3 separate regions of the Homo sapiens genome follow, and regions 1 and 2 are each linked to region 3. The links come from fine-mapping of genetic effects on gene expression. A gene starts in region 3. Each other region holds a variant in brackets. All regions are shown on one strand. Distances are from middle to middle.

The links. PIP is the estimated chance that this variant, and not a neighbour inherited with it, causes the effect.
Region 1: its variant is the best candidate, but not a certain one, in a credible set for the expression of CIB1 in hypothalamus (GTEx, PIP 0.79).
Region 2: its variant is the best candidate, but not a certain one, in a credible set for the expression of CIB1 in adrenal gland (GTEx, PIP 0.76).

Annotation. Positions count from the first base shown.
Region 1 is chr15:90,291,156-90,293,909 of GRCh38, reverse strand. It overlaps the pseudogene GOLGA2P8. Among named protein-coding and RNA genes, the nearest start is that of NGRN, 27 kb to the right of the region's middle. RefSeq lists enhancers at 1-193, 194-694, 538-697. The variant C/T (reference allele first, on the strand shown) is at 1,398.
Region 2 is chr15:90,261,929-90,264,682 of GRCh38, reverse strand. It overlaps TTLL13 (tubulin tyrosine ligase like 13), which reads right to left. Exons shown (of 15, transcript NM_001396017.1): 11 at 2,492-2,677; 12 at 2,014-2,191; 13 at 1,538-1,717; 14 at 625-736. It also overlaps a transcript of CIB1 not described here. Among named protein-coding and RNA genes, the nearest start is that of NGRN, 2.4 kb to the left of the region's middle. The variant C/T (reference allele first, on the strand shown) is at 1,367.
Region 3 is chr15:90,232,808-90,235,561 of GRCh38, reverse strand. CIB1 (calcium and integrin binding 1) reads left to right here and starts at 1,621. Exons shown (of 7, transcript NM_006384.4): 1 at 1,621-1,727; 2 at 1,859-1,893. The coding sequence starts at 1,677. GDPGP1 (GDP-D-glucose phosphorylase 1) reads right to left here and starts at 1,353. Exons shown (of 4, transcript NM_001013657.3): 1 at 1,270-1,353; 2 at 966-1,040. RefSeq lists silencers at 1,219-1,658, 1,679-2,128.

The DNA.
Region 1 (2,754 bases), 58 kb before region 3:
ACCTTCCCCAGGGAGAGCCATGAGGCTCAACTGGGCCTGTAGTTGCTGGTTCTGCTGGCTGGTAGCTTCCAGGTGCTCCTGAGATGCCAGGAAAGAGGGTGAGAAGGCACAGAGGTTGCCAGGTTGTCCCTCTTGGGGCCCCGTCCTCAGCAACTCCCTCCCCTGGGTCTCCTGCAACTTTTGGCGGGCCATCTTAGCCACTGCTTTGCCCTGAGCTTCCTGCTGCTGCAGCTGGTCCAATGAGCCGGGTCTGCAGCAGTAACTGCCTGTGCAGCGCCTCCTTCTCAGAGGTCAGCTGCTGATAGGCTGCCACCTGCTGCTGATAAGTGGCCACGTACTGCTTCAGGTGACCCAGGTACTGGCCTCGCTGCTGCTGCAGACTCTGAGCCTCTTGGCTCTTCAGCTCCACCTGCTGGAAGTCCCTGGGCATGAGGGCAGCTGGTGGCTGGCTTCCAGATTCCTGGCCCATTAATAGGGTAGTGAGGGCACTGTGGGGCTCTGTGGCCTGCCCAGGCCCCTGGCCCCTTGCTCCAGGCCTAAGAGACTGCCTCCCTTGCCTAGAACCCCATGCCTCCTTCCCCAGCCTCAAATCTCACGTTCTTCTTCCAGCCATTTAAACTGTAGGCCACAGACTGGTGGAAAAGCAGAGGGAGCCAACCACCATCTGCTAAGTGTGCTACATGCCTAATGTTTCCACGTATTATCTCATTTAACCCTCGGCACCTCTGCGAAGAAAAAGCTCACTTCCTTTTGAAGTTAAAGAAACAGAGACTTAGAGATGGAAAGTAGTTGAATGATGACCAGTGGAACCGAGGCCGGAATCCAGTTTGAATCTAAGGAGTCGTTTTGGTTTTTTTCATATTTTGTTTTGGGACAGTGTCACTCTGTGTCCCAGGCTGGAGTGCAGTGGTGCGATCTCAGCTCACTGCAACCTCCACCTCCTGGGCTCAAGTGATTCTCATGTCTCAGCCTCCTGAGTAGCTGGGATTACAGGCATGCACCACCATGCCCGGCTAATTTTTTTTTTTTTTTTTTTTTGTAATTTTGTAGAGATAAGGTTTTGCCATTTTGGCCAGGCTGGTCTCAAACTCCTGATCTCAAGTGATTCTCCTGCCTCAGCCTCCCAAAATGCTGGGATTACAAGTGTGAGCCACTGCACCTGGTATAAGGAGCCTCTTATGCCACTGTCTCTTCCTCTGTGATTGGAGGGCTCCATGCCTCTAGCTGGGATGATGATGTCCAGACCTGGGAGGAGCCAGGGCTACCCACCTCTAAAAGTCAGAGGGCAGGAAGCAAGAAACAGTCATAGGACTGCCCTGGAGGGTGCTGGGGTCACCTGCCCCCAGGCTGCAGCTGCCTCTGGCCTGGCACCTCCCCTCCCCAGAGGCTGGTGCCCG[C/T]CTCCCAGACCTTCTTGGACGGGTCGGAGGTTACCGTCCCCTTCAGCTAGCCCAGCTTCTCCTGCAGCTCCTTTACTTGCTGCTCCAACTGCAGTGCGCTCTTGTTCTCGTTCTGGACAGAGAGAAGCAATCAGCAGCCACCCGCTGCAACTGGAGACCCCAGAACTTGGTGTCTGCCTCCCATAGCACTGGGAAGGGTGGAGGGAGGTTAGAAAAATCATCCCCTCTCTCCCACAGCCATCAGAGCAGGGCTCCGGCTCACAGGTGCCTTAGAAGTACCATTTCATGTGAGGGCTACACTGCCCCATTTTACAGGTGGGGAAACAAAGGCCTGGCGGGCTAGGGAGGAGGGCTGGGGTTGGGGGGCCCAGTCCAGTGTGCCTCAGGGGTGGTATGGACTCCGGCAACGGTCTTGTTGTCGGAGGGGATCTGTGGCTGGGTTGGGGGCCATGACCTGGTGCGTTTTACCTTTTTCCTGGCTGCGGCCCATTTGCCCTGTCGTGTTTTTTCTGACATCATGGGGTGTGGAGGGAGGCGGGGTTGGGCCACATCAGTGAAATCCCAGTGAGCACTGATGAATGCCTCCAGTCACCTACCAGGCAGCTGTGCAACTGAGCCAGAAGAGGCATAACCGGGGCCCCACTAGAATGCAGAATAGGGGCGTGGCCTTAATGCTCCAAGCCCATTGGTCAATGAGAAATATGAAAGGGAAAGGAGGCGTGGCCAGGTAGCACCGTGTCCAGAAGGACCTGTGGTTCACAAGGAAAGCTGCCCATGCAACCGCTGTACCCGACCACTCAGAGAGAGGGAGGGGCCGCCCACTCAGAGGGGAGGGGCCGGCTTTTGCTTTAAAACCTTTAAAACTGTAAAAAATAAACTTTAAAAAATGTATGTGTGTATTCTTTATATATATGTGTGTCTGTGTGTGTGTATCTACGTGTTCCTCCAGAGCTGTCTCCATTATCCAGCTTCTATGCAAGGTCTATAATTTTGGCCTATATTTTTCATCTTCAAATGGAGTACAATAATTACCAGTATTACCTTAACTGAGATACAGATCCTATAAAAATGGAAAATCCATAGCATGCTTGATGATTAATGAAGCAGGCTATAGTATCCAACATTCCAATAAGATAAAATAATCACAATGATTTCTCTTTTTTTGGAAAAACGTTTCTTTTATTCTCCTACATTATTAAGATTTTTTTTTTAAAACAAGAAACATGTCAAATATCTTGAAAAACACAAAGCTTTTGGGCTGGGTGCGGTGGCTTACGCCTGTAATCCCAGCACTTCGGGAGGCCAAGGCAGGTGGATCACCTGAGGTCAGGAGTTCGAGAACAGCCTGGCCAACATG
Region 2 (2,754 bases), 29 kb before region 3:
ACAGAAGAGATTTGTTCACCTCTTTCCCAACTGTGGCCCAATTACCAACACAGAGGAAGGGCATCTCATGCTTCCCTCCACTGTCTTTCCCACACTGTATTGTAATTGGTATGGTATGTCTTTTTGTCCATGTTCCTATTACCTCTTGAGTGCTGGGACTGTATTTCTGCCATTTCTATCACCAGGGTCTAGTGTACAGAAAGGATTAAATAGGCCTGGTGCGGTGGCTTACACCTGTAATCCTAGCACTTTGGGAGACTGATTCAGGTGGATCAGGAGTTCAAGACCAGCCTGGGCTACGTGGCAAAAACAAAATATACAAAAGTTAGCCGAGCATGGTGGTGTGTGCCTATAGTCCCAGCTACTCAGGAGGCTGAGTCAGGAGAATTACTTGAGCCCGTGAGTGGAGTTTGCAGTGAAGTGAGATCAAGCCATTGTACTTCAGCCTTGGCGACAGAGCGTGACCTTGTCTCAAAAAAAAAGGAGTAAATAAATGGGTACCCTAACTTCCCCATTCTTACACTGGTGGAAGTGCCATATTATATTTTAGGGGCATCCAAGCTCTATGCTTGCTAGTGGGATTTACATATGTCAAAATGACCAAAGCTAGTTTTGCATACTTACGGCTAGTGAGCCTGATTCTGGCACTGGAAAAATAGCACCTCCCAGCCTTCTTCATTGACAATGAACAGGAGTTGATGGCTGCCGGCTCTCCTGTCCAGTTGAAGTTCTTGGGCTGCAGATGGTACCGGGGAACATGTGGGATTGCAGCATTCATGCTTGGCAGTGCCCCTAAGATCCTGGGGATTGATTCATGGGGCAGAACTGGATGCAGGAAATGAGGAGCGCCCTGCTCTGTGGCAGCCCCTCTTAGGAGCACCAGTAGGACCAGACTCATAGATTTCAGTTCTTGACTGCCCAGCCTGTCCTAGCAAAATCTAGGCTAGAGGAGAAGAGCAGCCCCTTACCACATTTTTATGTAAGTTTGGATGGAGCGTTGGAAGAAGGAGGTAACTGAAAAAAATCTCTTCTAGGCCGCGGCCACTATTTAACCAGATACTCCTTTGGGGTTCAACAAAAACAGAAGACCCAACAGGTTTGCTACCAGCCCAGGGAATAGTGAAAGCGGCAGCTCTTTTGTTGGCCCAAATCTGTTTACTTATCTCCCATTAGAGCTGGGGCACTGGCAGTGCTAGGGAGAAAATTATACAGAAGCCACTGAGGGTGGTGGGCTTGTTATTTGTCAGTCATGAGTGTGGGGTTATTTTGGGACAGGAATATAGAGAGCAAGTTTCCTGTAAATGAGAAGGTTTGGAGCTGCAACTTGCTGGATGTCATATCTAAAACAAAGGAGCTTGGGAACAGA[C/T]GCAAAAGGAATCAACAGACCCTCTCCCAAGGTCCAGCTAGCGCACTCTGCTTTCCCAGGCTCCACTGACAGATACCATCACACAAGCCTCCTTTGTTGAGACCAACACCATGTCCTGGAATGACAGCCCTTGTTCCCTTTTCCTCTGGGAGACTTCACAGGGACCCTCACCCGACTCTCATGAAGTTTTTTCTGGCCCTGGGGGCCAGGGTGCTGCAGACGGGTGAGCTGCTCTACAATACCCAGGCTTCGGATGAGAGTCTCCCTTTGTAGCAGGGCCTTCATCCGCTCCAGCTCCTCCTCTTCCACAATTTCTTGAGGCCTCATGGTGTCCAGCTGTCCCGGCAGCAGCTACAAGGTACATGAGAGATAAATGCAGGATCTCCAAGGATAAGTCCCAAACCATCACCCAGGATGGCTACAGGCCTCCTGCCCACTCTACCCTCATCCCTTCCCTGACCCAGGAAGGTTCCTTTTGCTGTCCATTCTCTCACTTCATCTTCCAAAGGATCGGATTCAATTTACTGATTAGGAACTCCTCTCTCTCTTGTGCATGGGGAGGAGAAGACAGCAGAGATTCATTCCCCTATCTAGTTGTCCCAACCCATTTTCCTGTGGAAAGATAAGAGCTACAAAACCCCTGGCACCTCTTTCTCCCAGTTGCGGTTCCTGTAAGCCAAGTGGGTGGAAAGGCTCTGGAGCCCTGCCCTGGGTCGGCTTTTCTCCCCAGCTGATTCACCCTGGTTCTGGTCCCTGGCCTTTTGCCTCTTAGTGCCCGAGGTCTCCTGCTGTTCCTGCTTAAGGCGGATCTCCTCTAGTTGCTGCCTGACAAGACACAGCAGCTTCAGACAGTAGAGAAATGGTGTTGGGGAGAAGAGGGGTGAGGAAAAATGGGGATGAGGAAAGAGCAGGAAATTACAATCTGTTCTTAGGACTGATGCGAGAGCAATGAGAGGGGAAGATAGGAAACCTACTAAACTGAAAAGAGTCACTAAGAGTCTGATAGGATTTATAGCTCCATTCCTCTTTGCTGGTGTCTGGCTTCCTCTTTCCCTGCTGGGAAGCAATGCAGCTTCAGGACTTGTCCCCACCTAGGTGTGCAGAGGAGAATGTCGGTCAAAGTACCTGGCACACTCCTCTCTGGCCTTGGAAGCAGCAGTCTCTTGGAAGAGGGAGCCATTGTGCTTGAAGAAGCGGGCATACTTCTCTGTGTCAGGCCCAGGGTAGATCCGCCGGTATTTTCCCAGGTGAGAATCCTCATATCGTTCCTGGTCCAGCATTGCCACATGGGATGACTCAGTTTTTTCTTTCCTGTGGAAAGCAAGCTCAGTGAGTCAAGAGTAGGGCTGTGGGAATGTTCAGTAGGGAAAGGAAGACTGACTAAGGTT
Region 3 (2,754 bases):
GTTGGGATGGGCCTATACCCTAGTTATTTTTTTTTATTTTTATTTTTTGAGACAGAGTCTCACTCTGTTGCCCAGGCTGGACTGCAGTGGCACAATCTCCGCTCACTGCAACCTCCAGCTCCCAGGTTTAACCATGTCTGGCTAATTTTTGTATTTTTAGTAGAGATGGGGTTTTGCCATGTTGGCCATGCTGGTCTTGAACTCCTGGCCTCAAATGATCCGCCTGCTTCAGCCTCCCAAAGTGCTGAGATTACAGGCATGAGCCACCGCGCCTGGCCTTGAATATTTCTACAATGATGGAATGTACCTGTTAATACAGTGTGTCTTATCAAACACATGCTGCCAAGGAGAGCACTGGGTATTCTTCCAGTGTAAAGTAGATTCCTAGGCAGTCTAGGGAGTCAGGAAAGGCTTCCCTGAGGATGAGATGGAAGAGGGACTGAGGGCCCAAAGTGGCTGAAAGACAGAGAGCCAATAGGAGGAAGTCCAGTTACAGAGGGCCAGGATTTGGGTTTTTAACCATTTAATGGTTATAAACTGAGACTAACATACTCAGATTTAGACTTTACAAAGATCAGCAAGTATAATGGATTGGAAGGATCAAGAATTAATCCCAGCCTGACCAACACAACCTCCACTTCCTCCTCCCAGCAGTTTGGAATCCTTACCTTTTGCAATAGTATACGTTCATTCATTTATTATGCATTCGATAATATTTACTGAGAGCCTACTATGTGCCAAACATTATCCTAGAGGTTAAGAGGGGACAAGAGCAAAGGGTCAGCAGTCTAGGGGTGAGATGGAGTCAAAAGGACGGCAGGTCAGCTGGAATGATGAGAACAGCAGTGGAGAGCCTTTAAAAGTGCCTTGGACTGGACCGATTACCTTCTAAATGCCGGCGCCCGGAAAAATCACTAACACCCTTTGGACTTACGTATTTCCATCTTTGTAAAATGGGAACCTACCTCGCAAGGGATGTTGCAACAATCGAAGAAAACTATGCACAATGCTTGACATCCAGTGGGTCCTCAGTAAATAGCCTAAGAAGGAAGCAAGGTTATGGTTACTTCTGGAAGAGGTGGCTTGGGGGCTGCGACAGGTGCAGCGATTGCCTGATGATAACATCTAGAAAAGCCCTTGCTGGGCAGAGGGGCAGCCGACGACCCCCGCCACTCAGCGAGTCTCCAGGTTTCCCGGAAACGCTAGCTCCAGTGACTTCTCAGATGCCCCTATGGGACCCCACCCAGGGCTGCCGCCGCCACCACCTACTGCAGCCGAAGCGGATGCACCTCGCGACTTTCCCCGCAGCCGCTGCCGGGGCCACAGCGAGGTCATGACGCCCGTGACGCATACGCAGCCAGCACGCACGCGCGCGGCGTGGCCCGCCCCCCCCTCCCACCCCGGAGGCGGGGCCGTGAGTCCCGGGCTCCGCCCCGGAGCGTCGGGCCCCTCCCCGGGCCCCGCCTCCAGCTCGCCTAGGACCGCTTGGAGCCGGCAGCTCGCCTGCCAAACCCGGCTGGGAACGCCTGGCAGCTTTTAGGAGGGGGCGGGCCCGGGGGTGGTGGCCCCAGGAGCGGTTGCCGCGGGGACCGGGCAGTGACGCGGCCCAAGGGCGGAAGTGAGAAAGTTGTCTGCGTCTCGAGGCGAGTTGGCGGAGCTGTGCGCGCGGCGGGGCGATGGGGGGCTCGGGCAGTCGCCTGTCCAAGGAGCTGCTGGCCGAGTACCAGGTGCGCGGGACGCCTGGCCCTGGGGAGCTCGCGTGCGGGCCTCTTCTCGGGAGCAGGGTCCGGGAGCTGGCTGCGGGGCGGCCGCGGCCTCCCAGCGGTCCGCTAATCCCCGCTCTGGCTTTGCCTTCCAGGACTTGACGTTCCTGACGAAGCAGGAGATCCTCCTGTAAGTGCTGCCTTGAACCCTGCCTCCGACCCCGGGATCCTCTAGAGACAGCTTCGGGGGCGCTGTCCCGAGGGAGGGGCGGGGGCTGGCCTGAGGTCTGCAGAGGAGCGGGAGCTGGAGGCCGGGAGACCTAGCCCGGGCTGCGCCCTCCTCCCGGCACGCCCTCCCCGCCCTCGCCTGAGGCCCCAGCGTGGCACCGCGGAGCCACCTTACAGCCTCCAGGAAAAGTTAGGCGCTCTTTGACCCTGGGCTCCACTAGCTTCAGCACTGCCGAACTTCCTGCCCCAGTCCGGCAGGGGCCGACCTTGCCCAGTGGCTAAACCACAGAAGCCTTGGGGAGCCCGGCTCCTTCTCCCAACTTTACCTGAATAATACAGTAACCGTTATCGCTTTCTGAGCACTCACCATGTGCCAGGGACTGTGCTAAATGGTTGCCTGCGTTACCTAATTTAATCTTTAGGAGAGAGGTACTGGACAATGAAACAGGTTCAGAAAGGTTTGGTAACTGCTTAAGACAACACTCTGAGTAAGTAGATTTGAACTTGGGCTGGAAGCCCTTTTGCCGGATTTATGCAGGCCAGGTTCCTGTGGCAAAGATAAGCTCATGGGAAGGAGGTGGAGGCCGAGGAGGACAGTTCAGTGTGGTTGCTAAAAAGGAGGCTTTGAGGGTAAGAGATCCCTGGAGTGAAGGTGAGAATGAGATTTTTGGTTTTGCTCTTTTCTCCGTTTTTTTTTTTTTGAGACAGCGTCTCGCTCTGTCGCCCAGGCTGGAGTGCTGGGGCACGATCTTGGCTCACTGCAGGCTCTGCCTCCGGGTTCAAGTGATTCTCCTGCCTCCGGGTTCAAGTGATTCTCCTGCCT